Homo sapiens: one gene and its partners. The protein of the gene in region 1 purifies or fractionates together with the protein of each later gene. This does not show direct contact. Each region holds a gene or a part of one and is shown in the gene's direction. Other genes may lie near its edges.

The links.
Region 2: the proteins of SYT3 (region 1) and MYH4 purify together in Homo sapiens (affinity purification with mass spectrometry; 2 studies listed by BioGRID and IntAct, with this or other methods). This does not show direct contact.
Region 3: the proteins of SYT3 (region 1) and MYH7 purify together in Homo sapiens (affinity purification with mass spectrometry; 2 studies listed by BioGRID and IntAct, with this or other methods). This does not show direct contact.

The regions. Positions count from the first base shown.
Region 1 is NC_000019.10:50,622,773-50,629,922, reverse strand, and holds part of SYT3 (synaptotagmin-3), read left to right. Parts: coding exon 1-139; intron 140-410; coding exon 411-629; intron 630-3,905; coding exon 3,906-4,026; intron 4,027-4,358; coding exon 4,359-4,530; intron 4,531-4,628; coding exon 4,629-4,761; intron 4,762-7,150. UniProt on the Homo sapiens protein: Ca(2+) sensor involved in Ca(2+)-dependent exocytosis of secretory vesicles through Ca(2+) and phospholipid binding to the C2 domain.
Region 2 is NC_000017.11:10,442,790-10,445,559, reverse strand, and holds the end of MYH4 (myosin-4), read left to right. Parts: intron 1-197; coding exon 198-323; intron 324-413; coding exon 414-584; intron 585-660; coding exon 661-765; intron 766-860; coding exon 861-956; intron 957-2,032; coding exon 2,033-2,185; 3' UTR 2,186-2,270; downstream 2,271-2,770. UniProt on the Homo sapiens protein: Muscle contraction.
Region 3 is NC_000014.9:23,425,661-23,432,660, reverse strand, and holds part of MYH7 (myosin-7), read left to right. Parts: coding exon 1-22; intron 23-154; coding exon 155-182; intron 183-791; coding exon 792-900; intron 901-983; coding exon 984-1,076; intron 1,077-1,179; coding exon 1,180-1,243; intron 1,244-1,661; coding exon 1,662-1,760; intron 1,761-1,997; coding exon 1,998-2,101; intron 2,102-2,747; coding exon 2,748-2,886; intron 2,887-3,313; coding exon 3,314-3,432; intron 3,433-3,556; coding exon 3,557-3,706; intron 3,707-3,990; coding exon 3,991-4,161; intron 4,162-4,766; coding exon 4,767-5,076; intron 5,077-5,353; coding exon 5,354-5,421; intron 5,422-5,796; coding exon 5,797-5,884; intron 5,885-6,579; coding exon 6,580-6,697; intron 6,698-6,842; coding exon 6,843-6,966; intron 6,967-7,000. UniProt on the Homo sapiens protein: Myosins are actin-based motor molecules with ATPase activity essential for muscle contraction. Forms regular bipolar thick filaments that, together with actin thin filaments, constitute the fundamental contractile unit of skeletal and cardiac muscle.

The DNA.
Region 1 (7,150 bases):
GTACCTCTATGGCTCGGACCAGCTGGTGGTGAGGATCCTGCAGGCCCTGGACCTCCCTGCCAAGGACTCCAACGGCTTCTCAGACCCCTACGTCAAGATCTACCTGCTGCCTGACCGCAAGAAAAAGTTTCAGACCAAGGTCCGGAGCAGCGGGCTGGACACCGGGTTCCCACAGAGAGGGAGCTAGGGCTCTGGACTCCCGGGTCTGAGGGAGGAGGGGCTGGGGGCCTGGACTCCCGGGTCTGAGGGAGGAGGGGCTGGGGGCCTGGACTCCCGGGTCTGAGGGAGGAGGGGCTGGGGGCCTGGACTCCTGGGTCTGAGGGAGGAGGGGCTGGGGGCTGGACTCCTGGATCCTGTGGAGGAGGGGCTTATGGGCACGGTGTCTGTCTCCTGTCGCCCACCACCACCAGGTGCACAGGAAGACCCTGAACCCCGTCTTCAATGAGACGTTTCAATTCTCGGTGCCCCTGGCCGAGCTGGCCCAACGCAAACTGCACTTCAGCGTCTATGACTTTGACCGCTTCTCGCGGCACGACCTCATCGGCCAGGTGGTGCTGGACAACCTCCTGGAGCTGGCCGAGCAGCCCCCTGACCGCCCGCTCTGGAGGGACATCGTGGAGGGCGGCTCGGTCAGTGGCCCTCTCCCCTGACCTTCCCCTTCCCAGGGCCCTGAGACCCCCCGGGTTGCAAGCCCCCTGCCCTCAGAGTTCATAACTTCCTCACTTCTTGTCCCCACATTTTTCTGTTAAAATGTATCACACTGGGGAAGACTGCAAACTTACAGGCAAGAATAGAGAATGAGCCGGGCGCGGTAGCTCATGCCTATAATCCCAGCACTTTGGGAGGCCAGGTGGGCAGATCACTTGAGGTTGGGAGTTCGAGACCAGCCTGGCCAACATGGAGAAACCCCATCTCTACTAAAAATACAAAAATTAGCCGGGCATGGTGGCACATGCCTGTAATCCCAGCTACTTAGGAGGATGAGGCAGGAGAATCGCTTGCACCAGGAAGTGGAGGTTGTGGTGAGCAGAGATCATGCCATTGCACTCCAGCGTAGGCAACAAGAGCGAAACTCCGTCTCAAAAAAAAAAAAAAAAGAACAGATAATGATACAGTGGACACCATTCCTCTCCTCAACATCGCCAAATGTTAGCATCAGGTCTGGATCCGATTTTCCAACCTCTCACCCGCTTTGCCATAGGATGCCTTCCTGCCTCAACCCCATGACTTCTCCCCTCTCACCCCAGACTTCTTACCTTCCTAACTTCCTGACTTTCCAATGACTGGACTTCTGGAAGCCCCAGTCCCTCTCTAATCTCTGAACTTCTGAAAGCCCCAATCCCTCTCTAATCTCTGAACTTCTGAATTTTCCCAACCCCTGACATTGGAACTCTTTCATATTCTGACCCTCTGTTTTTTCATGGTCCCTGCCCGAATGCTGATAGCTTGATCCCCCAGGCCTCAGCCATCCTGGGATCCCCAATATGCAGACACTCCTCAGTTCTCCCAGCATCCAGATTATAGGGCCCAATGGCTTCTTCCTTATTCCTTGCGACCCCTGCCCTCTGGTATCTCATTCTCCCTGTACCTCCAATCCCTCCCCAGCCCCATTCTTAGGTACTTCTTGTGTGTGTGTCCTGAGCTCTTCTGCCCCACCAAATCTCAGATCCTCAACTCTACAGCGCCCCCGCTCCAACCTAATTTGTGGATTATCCAACATTCCAGTTCTCTGCCAATCTGGGGTAGCTGTGTGTGTGTTGTGGGGAGGGCGGCCTTCATATCAGGAGAGGACTAGACCTCCTCAAGGTTCTTTCCTTTTCTGAGCCTCAGTTTCCCCATCTGTTCAATGACAGATGTCCAGTTGAGCTGGGTGCCAGGTAGGCTTTTTGGGTAGCTCTTTGGGTAGGCTTCTTCATGGGGCCCTCCCCAGCCTGCCTGCTTGGCCCCCAAGCCCAGCCTTTGAGATTGAAGTGCCCAGTTCCAAGGTCCCAGGGCCCCTGTGTATTCCACCAGCTCCTACTCCCAGTCATCACCCATGGCAGCCCCATGCCAGGGCCTTCTCTCTGTATCCATGCTGGCCTAATTCTTGTGCTCACCCTTCTCATTTTCTCTCTCCATCATCATCACTTGAGGTTTTCCTCACTCATTCCATTGATTCATACATTCTCTCTCTCTCATTTTTTTTTTTTTTTTTTTGAGACAGAGTCTCTCTCTGTCACCCAGGCTGGAGTACAGTGGCGCAATCTCAGCTCACTGCAACCTCCACCTCCCGGGTTCAAGTGATTGTGATTCTCATGCTTCAGTCACCCAAGTAGCTGGGATTACAGGCACCTGCCACCATGCCCGGCTAATTTTTGTATTTTTAGTAGAGACAGGGTTTCGCCATGCTGGCCAGGCTGGTCTCGAACTCCTGAGCTCAGGTTAACCGCCCACCTCAGCCTCCCAAAGTGCTGGGATTACAGGCATCAGCCACTGCACCCAGCCTTCATTCATTTCTTCAACCACTGTTTTTTTCAGGAGCAGGGCCTGGGGACCCCAGGCAGCCCTCGGCAGCTCCAGGTCTAGATGGTCGGGCCTTGTGTCAGGGGCCAGGGTTATGGGGAGGCACAGGAGGAGCCTCTGCAGGGCTGTGGGGGATCTGGGAGCTTGTGGAACGAGGGGAGGCTCAAAGGCCAAGGAGAGATAGAGGGAAGAGTGTTCTGGCAGAGGGACAGCCTGGGCAGATGCCCTGAGGGGAATGAGTAGGGAGTCCTGGGCACAGTTGGGAGGCCGCAGGGCTAGGCCAGGTTGGTCAAAGCTCCCAGCTAGCTCCAGCGTGGCTCCAGCCTGTGTGTCAGGGTTGGGGGCAGTCCTGGAAACTTCGGTGGAGGTTGATGAATCTCCTGCCCTCTCTCAGGCTGGTTTATGTGTGTGTGTCTGCTTGGTCTTTGTCCCACTCTGTCTGAGTCAGCCTCTCTCTCTCTCTCTCTCTTTCTCTTGGTGCAGGGAGTAGGGTATCTGAGTCTAGGTTTCTCTCTCGCTCTCTGGTCTCTGCCCCTCCACTCTAATTCTAGGTAACTATCACTCTCTCTGGGTCTTTATGCACCCCCAACCCACTGTCTCTGTCCCTCTCTCTCTCTGGGCCTCTGTCTCTCTCTGAGTCTCTCTCTATATATATCTCTCTCTCTTTCTCTCTCTGGGTCTCTGTACCCCCTGTCTCTGGGCTTCTGTCTCTCTCTGGGTCTCTATCTCTCTGTCTCTGGGTCTCTGTCCCCCTCTCTGTCTGGGTCTCTGCCCCTTTCTCTCTCTGGGTCTGTCCTCCTCTCTCTGGGTCTCTGTCCCCCTCTCTTTCTGGGCCTCTGTCCTCCTCTCTCTCTGGGCTTCTGTCCTCCTCTCTCTCTGGGTCTCTGTCCTCCTCTCTGGGTCTCTGTCCCCCCCCCTCTCTCTCTGGGCCTCTGTCCCCCTCTCTCTCTGGGTCTCTGTCTCCCTCTCTTTCTGGGTCTCTGTCTCCCTCTCTCTGGGTCTCTCTCTGTGTCTGTCTCTGGGCCTCTGTCCCTCTGACTTGAGAACTTTGCCTGTGGGTCTGTCTTTCCAGCTGTATCCCTCCGTGTTTTGGCTTCTGTCTCAGTCTATTTCTCTTTGTGTTTTCTCTCTCTCTCACCTTCTCTGTCTCTCCCCTCCTCTCTCTCTCCCCTCACTCATGCTTCTTCCAATCTTTCCTGCAGAACAAATAAGCTTTGATGGTCATGGGCAGCTGTGGCCAGGGAATTACTGGGCCTTGTCCCAAGAGTCAGATTGCTAAGTGGATGGGAAGCCTGAGCCCTGGATGTCAGGGTGTAAAGCAGGAGGCTCCGACCGGAGAGAAAATCAGGGAGAGTTGAAGAGGGGCTGAGGCAAGATATCGCTGACCTTTTCCCCAACTGCAGGAAAAAGCAGATCTTGGGGAGCTCAACTTCTCACTCTGCTACCTCCCCACGGCCGGGCGCCTCACCGTGACCATCATCAAAGCCTCTAACCTCAAAGCGATGGACCTCACTGGCTTCTCAGGTGAGGGTCCTGGGTCTGAGGGAGGAGGGCTGGGGGCCTGGACTCCTGGGTCTGAGGGAGGAGGGGCCAGGGGCCTGGACTCCTGGGTCTGAGGGAGGAGGAGCTGGGGATCTGGACTCCTGGGTCTGAGGGAGGAGGGGCCAGGGGCCTGGACTCCTGGGTCGGAGAGAGGAGGACCTGGGGTCTGGACTCTTGGGCCTGAGGAAGGAGGGACTGGGGGCCTGGGGCCCCGGACCTCTGGGTCTGAGGGAGGAGGGGCTCGGGGCCTGGGGTCCTGGACCCCTAGGTCTGAGGGAGTGAGTCTCTGTTCCTTACTTCATTGCTGTTCCCAGACCCCTACGTGAAGGCCTCCCTGATCAGCGAGGGGCGGCGTCTGAAGAAGCGGAAAACCTCCATCAAGAAGAACACGCTGAACCCCACCTATAATGAGGCGCTGGTGTTCGACGTGGCCCCCGAGAGCGTGGAGAACGTGGGGCTCAGCATCGCCGTGGTAGACTACGACTGGTGAGGGGCGCGGCCCGGGCGGGGGTCAGGCAGGAGGGCTGGGGTGGGGACAGGCCCTCCCACCACCCTCCACGGTCCTCACTGACCCCAACCCCCAGCATCGGGCACAACGAGGTGATCGGCGTGTGCCGTGTGGGCCCCGACGCTGCCGACCCGCACGGCCGCGAGCACTGGGCAGAGATGCTGGCCAATCCCCGCAAGCCCGTGGAGCACTGGCATCAGCTAGTGGAGGTGAGTAGGGGTCCCACACCGACCCCTGACAAGCACCCGTGCACCCTCGGCCCCTTCATCCATGCAACGAACGCCCTGCATGTTCGTGAGTCGCAGAGCCAGGCGTCCTAGGTTTCAATCCCTGCTGTGCCAACTTTAGCTGTGCGGCTTAGAGCCAGTTACCCAAGCGCTCTGTGCCTCAATTTACCCACTAGGAAATGGGACTGTTGATAGCATCTTCTGTTAGGATAGAGGTGAGATGTGCTGAGTTAAACGTTCTGTAGGTGGTCGCTGCTGTTGTTACCCATGAGGCTAAGTTGAAAATAGAGGGGGCTGGGCGTGGTGGCTCACGCCTGTAATCCCAGCACTTTGGGAGGCCGAGGAGGGTGGATCACCTGAGGTCAGGAGTTTGAGACCAGCCTGACCAACATGGAGAAACCCTGTCTCTACTAAAAATACAAAATTAGCTGGGCGTGGTGGCGCACGCCTGTAATCCCAGCTACTTGGGAGGCTGAGGCAGGAGAATCGCTTGAACCTGGGAGGCAGAGGTTGCGGTGAGCTGAGGTGGCGCCATTGCACTCCAGCCTGGGCGACAGAGCAAGACTCTGTCTCAAAAAAAAAAAAAAAAGTCATTTAAGATTATCGCTTGATCAGGAGAAATAATCAAACATGGCCATTCTCTCAATAGAAAACAAGAGGAGCAAAGAAGTAGCTTTAGAAAGTGTTATTGGCAGATTTGCCTCCATTAAAAGCCAAGAAAGTCAAATTATTCAAATTCTGTCTAGGGTATATATGAAAGATTTAAATGTAAAATAATGTTGTGAATTTCAACACACTTACTTCATTTTTCAGTATTTTTCAACTAGTTTAGCATTCCAGGAAAAATAAATTTAGAAAAAATATATAAAAACTTGGGCAGGGCACAGTGGCTCATGCCTGAAATCCCAGCACAGGCCTTGGGAGGCCAAGGTGGGTGGATCACTTGAGCCTGGGAGTTTAAGACTAGCCTGAGCAACATGGGGAGAGCCTGTCTCTACAAAAATAATTTAGGAATTAGCTAGGCATGGTAGTGTGTGCTTATAGTCCCTGCTACTCAGGAGGCTGAGGCAGGAGGATCTCTTGAGCCCAGGAGTTTGTTACTGCAGTGAGCTATGATCTCACCACCACACTCCAGCCTGGGCAATGGAGCAGGAACCCCTCTCCTTAAAAAAAAAAAAAAAGCAAGTATATGAGGGCACATACATTTCCTTTGAAATAGCAGTCTGATGTGGCATGAGACTGGCCTTTTTTAAAAATTTGATATTTTCTTCATCATTGATTTTTTTGCATTAATTTTGATTTTTTTTAAAATCTTGCATTATTATTATTATTGTTATTATTGAGACAGAGTCTCACTCTGTCACCCAGGCTGGAGTGCAGTGTTGCAGTCTTGGCTCACTGCAACCTCCCCCTCCCTGAGTACAAGTGATTCTCCTGCTTCAGCCTCCCAAGTAGCTGGGACTACAGGCGTGTGCCACCTCACCCTGCTAATTTTTTTTTTTTTTTTTTTTTTTTTTTTTTTTTTTTTTTGTAGAGACAGGGTTTTGCCATGTTGTCCAGGCTGGTCTCAACTTCCCACCTCAAGTGATCCACCCACCTTGGGCTCCCAAAGTGCTGGGATTATAGGCGTGAGCCACCGCGCCTGGCCAATATTGCATGAAATATTCTTTATCTTGATTGCTGCATTTGGGGCACACATTTACATTTAGTACTGGGTGAAACTTTCACCACATCACCAGATTTAGTCTGGCCCTGCTGTGGGCTTTTTTCCAGTGATCATGAGGGACCCGACACCTGGGCACAGAACTCAGATTTGAGATTGGAAAAGACGGGGACTCTACTAAGGTGGATAGGATGGAGGCTACTCCCTCCTCCTGTCATTCACTCATTCATCCGTTCATTAATTCATCCCACCAACCTTCCCAGGAGTTTCTGGTGAGCCACTGCCCATGTTGGGCAACGCTGGTGGCACAGAGTCTAGGCCGAGTCCTGACACTGCCCATGAATTTCAGCCCCTCATGCTCCCTGTGGCCCCAGAAGATCCTTCTACACCCAGAGCTTCCCCTCCCCTTCCTTGCTCACAGCCCTCCCGTGGCTCCCCAGTGGCCCCAGGACAGAGTCTCAGCCCCTCTGATACCATGCAGGACTTGCCCCACTCATCCCTACAGCCTCATCTCTCCTCGCATTTGCAGAGACTCCTCTTTTTTGTGCCTCCATTTCCCCATCTGTAGAATGGAATTGTAATACCATCTGTCCGTCACTTCAGGGCCAAGTGAGAAAGCGCATCCTAAATAATGAAACAGGATTGACGTCTTCTCCTGTTGATGATTAGCATCTGTTTCAACTCTCTGTCTCTCACTCCCGAACCTTC
Region 2 (2,770 bases), on another chromosome or scaffold:
ATTAAATTTAGAAGTTTGATTAAAGAGCTATATATAGAAAGGAGAAAAGGCATAAACTTAGAATTATCTTCTAATTTGGTTTTTATTCTAAACATTTCTTATGATCAATAATTTTTGCCTGTGTACACTAGGTAAAATGACAATGTGAGTTGTTATAAGTAAATGTGCTTCTCTTCTCTTTCATTAATTTGAAACAGAACACCAGCCTGATCAACACCAAGAAGAAGCTGGAAACAGACATTTCCCAAATCCAGGGAGAGATGGAGGACATCGTCCAGGAAGCCCGCAATGCAGAGGAGAAGGCCAAGAAGGCCATCACTGATGTAAGCAAGATGAGCATTTGTCTTACTGACACATGCATGCTGCCTGCTATCATCAGAATTCATTATTTTCAAAATTTATTTGCTAACTAGGCTGCCATGATGGCTGAGGAGCTGAAGAAGGAACAGGACACCAGCGCCCACCTGGAGCGGATGAAGAAGAACATGGAGCAGACCGTGAAGGATCTGCAGCTCCGTCTGGATGAGGCTGAGCAGCTGGCGCTGAAGGGTGGGAAGAAGCAGATCCAGAAACTGGAGGCCAGGGTAGGTCTCCACAACTTCACTCAATTCCTTGTGGCCAGTTACAGCCAAACTGGTAAACGTCTTTGTTCCCTTCCAGGTGAGAGAGCTTGAAAGTGAGGTGGAAAGTGAACAGAAGCACAATGTTGAGGCTGTCAAGGGTCTTCGCAAACATGAGAGAAGAGTGAAGGAACTCACTTACCAGGTGACCAGTGTTTTCATATCTTCCAGGCCTATAGTTTTCAAGAAAATCATGAGTTGTTTTAAAATAATGGCACCATCTACTTGCACCTCTTTCAGACTGAGGAGGACCGCAAGAATATTCTCAGGCTGCAGGACTTGGTGGACAAATTGCAAACCAAAGTCAAAGCTTACAAGAGACAAGCTGAAGAGGCTGTGAGTATCTCCACAGTGGAAATGAAAGGTTCAGATGCACATCCAGGTTTTTTGGGGCCTAAAGTTTATAGAATTTAGGGGGTTTTCTTTAAATTGGGAATACATAATTAGGTATGAACATGAATATTTAGAATGAGAAAAATGAACCATAAATTACTGGAGCCTTATAGATTTGAGTTTATTTCTTCTGAGACCTCTTTAAGCAATTTTCCAGACATGTTAACATACAAATGTTTCTTAGTTGCAATCCACTTCCCTCCCTATCTAGAACATTCTACAACCCCCAGCACTCATATGGACCTGTGCAAATGAGAGTATGAATTCTAAGCTTCATTTAACTTCATGATAAATCCATCTTGGGACTTTTTTTTTCAATTTGGCTGCAGTTATCTTTTTCATTCTGTTAATTCTGAAACCTTCCTTAGGGTTCTTGGCACCAAATGCCACTACTGCACCTATTTTTTAAAGTTTCTTTTTTAGAAACAAGATTGAATTCAGATCCCTGCTACTTTGTTCTTCCAGTTATCACTGCAGCCTCTTCAGTTTGCCAGAAAGAGAGTCAAGTGAGAGAGAGACTTGAGGAGGGTCATAAGCACATTCATTTACATAGGCGAGTTTGTGGGATGCCTTGCTCTCAAATAACTATGTTACTAAATAATAAAGCCTTTTTCTCTTCTTTTTTTTTTTTTCGAGGCAGAGTTTTGCTCTTGTTGCCCAGGCTGGAGTGCAATGGCACAATCTCAGCTCACTGCAATCTCTGCCTCCTGGGTCCAAGAGATTCTCCTGCCTCAGCCTCCTGAGTAGCTGGAATTACAGGCATCCACCACTACGCTGGGCTAATTTTAGTAAAGATGGGGGTTTCACCATGTTGGCCAGGCTGGTCTCGAATTCCTGACCTCAGGTGATCCACCCGCCTCAGTCTCCCAGAGTGCTGGGATTACAGGTGTGAGCCACCATGCCTGGACAACGGAGCCTTTTTCTTTCTCATTCATGAGGCAAATCCTGAAGTAACAAAAGCAATAACAATCAGGAAATGTCCAATTTTCTTGTTATCTCAAATGCATCTCTGTTCTCAGGAGGAACAATCCAATGTCAACCTTGCCAAGTTCCGCAAGCTCCAGCACGAGCTGGAGGAGGCCAAGGAACGGGCTGACATTGCTGAGTCCCAAGTCAACAAGCTGAGAGTGAAGAGTCGGGAGGTTCACACAAAAGTCATAAGTGAAGAGTAATTCATTCTAATGAAAGAAAATGTGACCAAAGAAATGCACGAAATGTGAAGTTCTTTGTCACTGTCCTGTATATCAAGGAAATAAAATCTTTAGATAATTTTGCATCTAAAAATACATTTGTCTCTTAATTATAAGCTCTTTAGTGCTATTAGAACTAATTCCTTTATTCAACATTTGTGGAGTTCCTAATATGTGCAATCAGAGATAATAACAAAAATGAATGTAGGCAGTGAACCCAACTTTAATGGAAGGTAAATGAAATAAGGTGCTCTGAGAAGACATGAAGGTGACAAACGCACTCTCAATTCCATTCAACCAATTTTACTGAGTATCAACTATATGTCTGGTACAGAAATGGACACGAAAGATGTGACAGTTATCCCTGTCTTTGAGAAGTTCAATCCAGTGTGGAAGACGGCAGTTCAAAAAGATATACGCTGTATGTATGTGCAACATACATACTCTGACATGAGTGTGAAAAACAAATGTGGCAATAACATAGAGTGAGCTGCTAACTTTGGAAATCCAGAAAGGCTTCTCAAAGGAGACTATGAGCTGATTCCTAAAAGAGGACCAGACAGTTAT
Region 3 (7,000 bases), on another chromosome or scaffold:
GCCTATCAGTACATGCTGACAGGTGAGAGGCCCTGGAAGGGTCTTCCTGAAGGGAACTGGGATAGGCCGGGAGGGAGAGGGAGAAGGAAGGGAGAAGCCCCACGAGAGCATCCTGTGCAGCTCCTGACCTTTCCTCCCCACCCTCTCCCCACAGACAGAGAAAACCAGTCCATCCTGATCACGTGAGTGTAGCTGCTACTGTATTCCCTTTCAGAATCTCCCTGATCCCAGCCTCCAGCCCCATCAGGTGTCCCAGGCCCCGAGGCATAGACTCAGCCTCTTTCCCCCCAACCTCGTGCCCATCTCCTTCTTCTCTGACCATTACCCTGACCCCTCTCTTTGCTCTCCCTCTTCCTTTCTGCTTTCCATCCCCTTCATGTTTTTCCTCTCCCACCTCCTTCACCCACTCTCCAACTCATCACGCGTTTATCCAGAAGCTCATTATCGCCATGTCTTCACCTCTGCATTTTCTTTCCCTTCAGAAACATTTCCCATTCTTCCAGCCCTACCAACTTTTCCCAAAACAGCCCAGGCCCATCTCCCCTGTTTACTTTGCCCAGCCAAGCACAGGCTCAGCCTGCCCAAACCAGTGCCTTCTGGTGGCATCCTTCCTGGTGCCAGCCCTGACCTCTGTGCATCAGAAGACAGTTGTGGATTTTGGGTGTAGATAACCTGGCAGCTTCTTGCCCAGGGCTCCTACTCTCGGGTAGGCCCAGGCATTCTCTCCTGATTTGAGGCTTGCTGGTCTCCAGTAGTATTGTTCACTGCCCAATAAGCCCCTGTCTTCACAGCGGAGAATCCGGAGCAGGGAAGACAGTCAACACCAAGAGGGTCATCCAGTACTTTGCTGTTATTGCAGCCATTGGGGACCGCAGCAAGAAGGACCAGAGCCCGGGCAAGGTAGGCCTGCTGCCCTCCAAGGTCCTGTACCGCAGAAAGGGAGGGAGAAGAGCTCTCACCTGCCTCCTTCTTGGCCTCTGCAGGGCACCCTGGAGGACCAGATCATCCAGGCCAACCCTGCTCTGGAGGCCTTTGGCAATGCCAAGACCGTCCGGAACGACAACTCCTCCCGCTTCGTGAGTGGTCCCTGACCTTGGCCTTGGGACTTGGACTGGTGGAGGAATGGTCTCAGATATGAGCCTTCCCCCAACTCATCACCACTCTCTTCCATCTCTCCAGGGGAAATTCATTCGAATTCATTTTGGGGCAACAGGAAAGTTGGCATCTGCAGACATAGAGACCTGTGAGTGCCATGAATCTGCTAGGCTCAGCCTAAGCTCACCCTTGCTCTAGACCATCTGGTCTTGACCTCTCTCTCTCTCCCCTCCCTCCCTCTGTTTTTCTCCTCTTTAAGTCTCTGTCTGTAGGTGTCTCTGTCTTCAGGTCTACATATCTGTCTCTCTCTGAGACTTCCTCTGCATCTTTCTCCATTTCTGTCTCTGCATGGCTAGGTGTCTTTCTCTGGGATTTCTCTCTGAGACTATTTCTCTCCTTCTGGGTCTCTGTTTCCATCTCTCTGTGTGATCTCTTTGTGTCTGTCCAACTAGTCTCTCTGGCTCTTCCCTTCCCTCTGCCTTTTGCTTGCTACATTTATCATTAATTTTCCTTGTGCCCAAACCCTAACTTTTCTTTCTCTCCTTCTTCTCCCCACCTGTTCACAGATCTTCTGGAAAAATCCAGAGTTATTTTCCAGCTGAAAGCAGAGAGAGATTATCACATTTTCTACCAAATCCTGTCTAACAAAAAGCCTGAGCTGCTGGGTGAGTCAGAGCCACCGACTGAGACCAACTATCTCCATGGCAACCTGGTCCCCTCTGCTTGTGGCTGGACTCAGCTGGCATGCCCTGGGTTTCATGGCACTGCTGGATTCAATTCAGTGGGATGTGGGGCCAAGCCAAGCCCTGTCCTGTGCTCTTCCTCAGGCCATGTGCTGTGGCGAGCAGCCTCCATGAGAGCCGGGGGCTTGTGTCCCACCCTAACCATGTTTTTTCCCCTAGACATGCTGCTGATCACCAACAACCCCTACGATTATGCATTCATCTCCCAAGGAGAGACCACCGTGGCCTCCATTGATGACGCTGAGGAGCTCATGGCCACTGATGTGAGTGTGTGAGGACCCAGCCAGGGGGTGGGAGGATTGGCAGTGAGGGGCAAACAGGGGTCCAAAAGCAGAGCTAAGACGCTGGCCATTGGTTGTTTAAAGTGGTATGGACCTCCTGAGAGCCAGAATGTGCCCTGTGATCAGGGTGTACTGGGGAATGGATGAGGTGAGACAGGACTGGCCAGTATCTGGTGTTCTATCAAACCAGGAAGAGCTGAAAGCCATGAGACAGAGAGACACACAAGCCAAGAAACAAGCATCACCGAGGGAGCAGGACGAGGAGGGAAGGCCATGCAGACGGCATGGGGCTGGAGGGGCTGTTAGGTGAACAGATGCAGACAGGTATGGAAGGCCAGGCAGGAAGCAAGTGTAGGGCCAGGAAGCATAAGTGGGTAACTCAGAAAAGCTGTGGCCACTGACACTGGGGCTGCGGCCAACTGACGTCTGCTCTGCTCTTGCATCTTACATCCTTTGTTTTGGAGTTCCCTGCATCTTACATCCTTTGTTTTGGAGCTCCCCACTGGGTATGGGAGTCTCAGAACCCACAGGGATTAAGGAGACAAGTTTTCTCTCCAACTTACAAGGGATCTCACTTACCCATCATACTTCTTTTTCTGGGGTCCGCCAATATGGGGCCTCCCTACAGAACGCTTTTGATGTGCTGGGCTTCACTTCAGAGGAGAAAAACTCCATGTATAAGCTGACAGGCGCCATCATGCACTTTGGAAACATGAAGTTCAAGCTGAAGCAGCGGGAGGAGCAGGCGGAGCCAGACGGCACTGAAGGTGGGAGGCAGGGATTCTTGGGGGCAGCTGTCAAGTCATGGAGGGCCATGTCTGCTCAGCAGTCATCTCTCTTCTCTTTTTTCTTTTTTTTTTTTTTTTGAGATGGAGTCTTGCTCTGTTGCCCAGGCTGGAGCGCAGTGGCACGATCTTGGCTCACTGCCACCTCCACATCCTGGGTTCAAGTGATTCTCCTGCCTCAGCCTCCCGAGTAGCTGGAATTACAGGCATGCACCACCATGCCTGGCTAATTTTTGTATTTTTAGTAGAGATGGGGTTTCATCATGTTGGCCAGGTTGGTCTCAAACTCCTGACCTCAAGTGATCCGCCTGCCTTGGCCTCCCAAAGTGCTGGGATTACAGGCATGAACCACCACACCTGGCCAGCAGTCATCTCTTTACCAACTTTGCTACTTGCCTTTTCCTTCCAGAGGCTGACAAGTCTGCCTACCTCATGGGGCTGAACTCAGCCGACCTGCTCAAGGGGCTGTGCCACCCTCGGGTGAAAGTGGGCAATGAGTACGTCACCAAGGGGCAGAATGTCCAGCAGGTGGGTCCATCTTCAGATGATAATGGGTGGGCAGGGTAGGGAGACTGGCATGGTGGGATGAGAGTTTTCAAGTTCACTCTTCCCAACAACCCTGCTCAATATGGGTCTCTCCTCCACCTTGCAGGTGATATATGCCACTGGGGCACTGGCCAAGGCAGTGTATGAGAGGATGTTCAACTGGATGGTGACGCGCATCAATGCCACCCTGGAGACCAAGCAGCCACGCCAGTACTTCATAGGAGTCCTGGACATCGCTGGCTTCGAGATCTTCGATGTGAGTTGGGACCCCTGGGAGTGGGAGAACAATCACTCACTCGCTCCCACATTCAACAGCTATTTGCTTAGAGCCAGCTGTGGACCAGACATGGGAAGGCAGTGGGGACTGTGTGGTGACAGAGGCAGTCATTTTCTCTGTCTTCAGGGGAAGCCCTCCTTCACTGCCTTGACATGGAGGGGACCAGCCACGCCCTGCTGGGCTCAGGCACAGTGGACGGGCACAGCCCCAATGGCCACTCACACCCACTTTCTGACTGCTCCCACCCCTCATGCCCCCTGCAGTTCAACAGCTTTGAGCAGCTCTGCATCAACTTCACCAACGAGAAGCTGCAGCAGTTCTTCAACCACCACATGTTTGTGCTGGAGCAGGAGGAGTACAAGAAGGAGGGCATCGAGTGGACATTCATTGACTTTGGCATGGACCTGCAGGCCTGCATTGACCTCATCGAGAAGGTGCCTCTTTGGCCTTACCACCTGAATTCTCCCTGCACACCCAACAAGAACACCATAGACAAAATAGCAGCCCCTCTCCCTTCTGGGGAATATAAAAATAGAAGGGGCTGAAGGATCCGAGCCCTTGGTTCCAGAGCCTATGTTGTGCTGAGCACCCAGGACAGGGTGGCACCAGGGACAGCTGATTTCCCAGGGGCTTGAAAGTGGACACATGGAGGATGGGCACCTGCATGATGACCTCCCACACCTGCATGTTTATTGGGCCTGGTTTATGCATCCAAGGATCAGGAAGTGTGAGGGTGGTGTAGGGGATCATAAGAGTGCACCTATTTTCAACCCTAGCATCTCAGGCATCTGGGTCGTGGAGTGGTGTGTACAGCATCGATAGAATCCATATTCCCAGACTTTCACAAAGGTCCTTCTGTCATCAGACAAAATCCTCCACCTTGAACCGGTTCCAGTCAGTAGATAACTGTACTCAGAGCTGAGCCTACTACCTTAACACCCAACATGGCACCTCCACGAGCAAGTATATTGACCATAGAGCAGAATCCATGTCCACCTGTGTGAAGGACACTCAGTGATGCTCTCTCCTGCTTCCTCAGCCCATGGGCATCATGTCCATCCTGGAAGAGGAGTGCATGTTCCCCAAGGCCACCGACATGACCTTCAAGGCCAAGCTGTTTGACAACCACCTGGGCAAATCCGCCAACTTCCAGAAGCCACGCAATATCAAGGGGAAGCCTGAAGCCCACTTCTCCCTGATCCACTATGCCGGCATCGTGGACTACAACATCATTGGCTGGCTGCAGAAGAACAAGGATCCTCTCAATGAGACTGTCGTGGGCTTGTATCAGAAGTCTTCCCTCAAGCTGCTCAGCACCCTGTTTGCCAACTATGCTGGGGCTGATGCGCGTAAGTAGGGACTGAGGCTCCCGGTACAGAGGAGCAGGGATTCTGCCAAGGTTCTGAGCCAGGTCAATTGCTACACCCCACCACTTCAATGTCAGGTTGTACCCCAAGGTTTACAGACTCAGTGGGATGGAACTGGGTGAAGAAACTGAGGCAGCCACATTGAAGGCCCTCACCCAGGGGCCAAATGCCAGCAAGGATGTAAAGAGGGGCTGTGATTCTTTACTCACACCCTACCTCCCCACACTGATGCTTCTTTTGTTGACTCTCCTTCCTGCAGCTATTGAGAAGGGCAAAGGCAAGGCCAAGAAAGGCTCGTCCTTTCAGACTGTGTCAGCTCTGCACAGGGTGAGTGGGACACAGCCCCAGCCAACTTGGCTCCCCATCTGCCCAACCCCACCCAGCCCCACCCTTCCCTGCCTTGTTCATCCCCTACTCCTCCCGTTCCCTGTCTCCTTGGTGCATTCGGGACCATTTTCACTCTGTCTTCTCTTCCCGTCATCTCCTGGCCTCTTCACTTATTTACTTCCCATCTCCCTTCTCTCCTCTTTCCCTTCTGTCTCCCACCCTCTCTCCTTATCCCTGTCTGCCCCCAGGGCCCCTTCATCTCTGTGACTTCTCGAATTCTCTCCATCTCTCTTTTCCTTCCTTCTTCTCCTCTCTTCTTCCTGCATCTCTTTCTGGCATTTTCTTTACTTTTCTCTATTGCATTTTTGGCCACAGGAAAATCTGAACAAGCTGATGACCAACTTGCGCTCCACCCATCCCCACTTTGTACGTTGTATCATCCCTAATGAGACAAAGTCTCCAGGTGAGGCCACAAACTCAGGCCAACCCACTGCTGGGCATACACCGCCCTGGGAACAGGACCTCCTAGGACATCTCCCTACCTACCACCACAGTGGTTTCCAAACCACATTCTTCTCCTCCCATCCCGCATGAGGCCTCCCAGGGTACCTCCCTCTCAGCGCTACCTTGCACTTGCAGTGTGTAATGAGGGTGATGTGTAAGGCACTCTGATGGACATTACCTCATCAGTGGCCCTACAACCCCTTGGATAGCTGGTTGTCCAAGACAGAATCTTAGTTCAACTTTAAATTTACCTGCAGAACCACTTAATCCCCCAATGAGACATATTCAAATTGTTAATCCATTTTTGGCTAATTAGGAGACAGAGGCTCAGGGACCTGGGTTCAAGACCTGGCTCTGTTCTTGATCAGCTTAGTGAACTTGGGCCAGTCCCATAACCCCTCTGGGCTTAATTTACTCATCTAGAACATTGGATATATCTGTTCTGGCTACCACCTATGATAATAGGTGTGAATCATATAAAAAAGGAATGTGAAAGCCTTTTAGTTAAAAATGTGGCTAGAAGAAAATGAAACAAATGATTATTACTAACTGACTTGCTAAGATTACAAGCTAATCAGTGACAAAGCCAGGATCAGAACCCAGAACTTCAGTCCAGTGTTCTCACAGACTCCTCCTACTTCCTTCTTGCCACAGGGGTGATGGACAACCCCCTGGTCATGCACCAGCTGCGCTGCAATGGTGTGCTGGAGGGCATCCGCATCTGCAGGAAAGGCTTCCCCAACCGCATCCTCTACGGGGACTTCCGGCAGAGGTGGGTATGAGGGTGCACCAGAGCTCATAGAACAGGGGGAGCCAGGCTGCCCTGATGGGAATGGGATCTGCAGGTGACCCTGGAATTCTATGGGCAGAGCAGATCACTGCAGAGCATGGGTGACTCTGGACACTTCCCTCCTCAGGTATCGCATCCTGAACCCAGCGGCCATCCCTGAGGGACAGTTCATTGATAGCAGGAAGGGGGCAGAGAAGCTGCTCAGCTCCCTGGACATTGATCACAACCAGTACAAGTTTGGCCACACCAAGGTGAGGAAAGGAGACTAATTAATTAAAGGAAGAC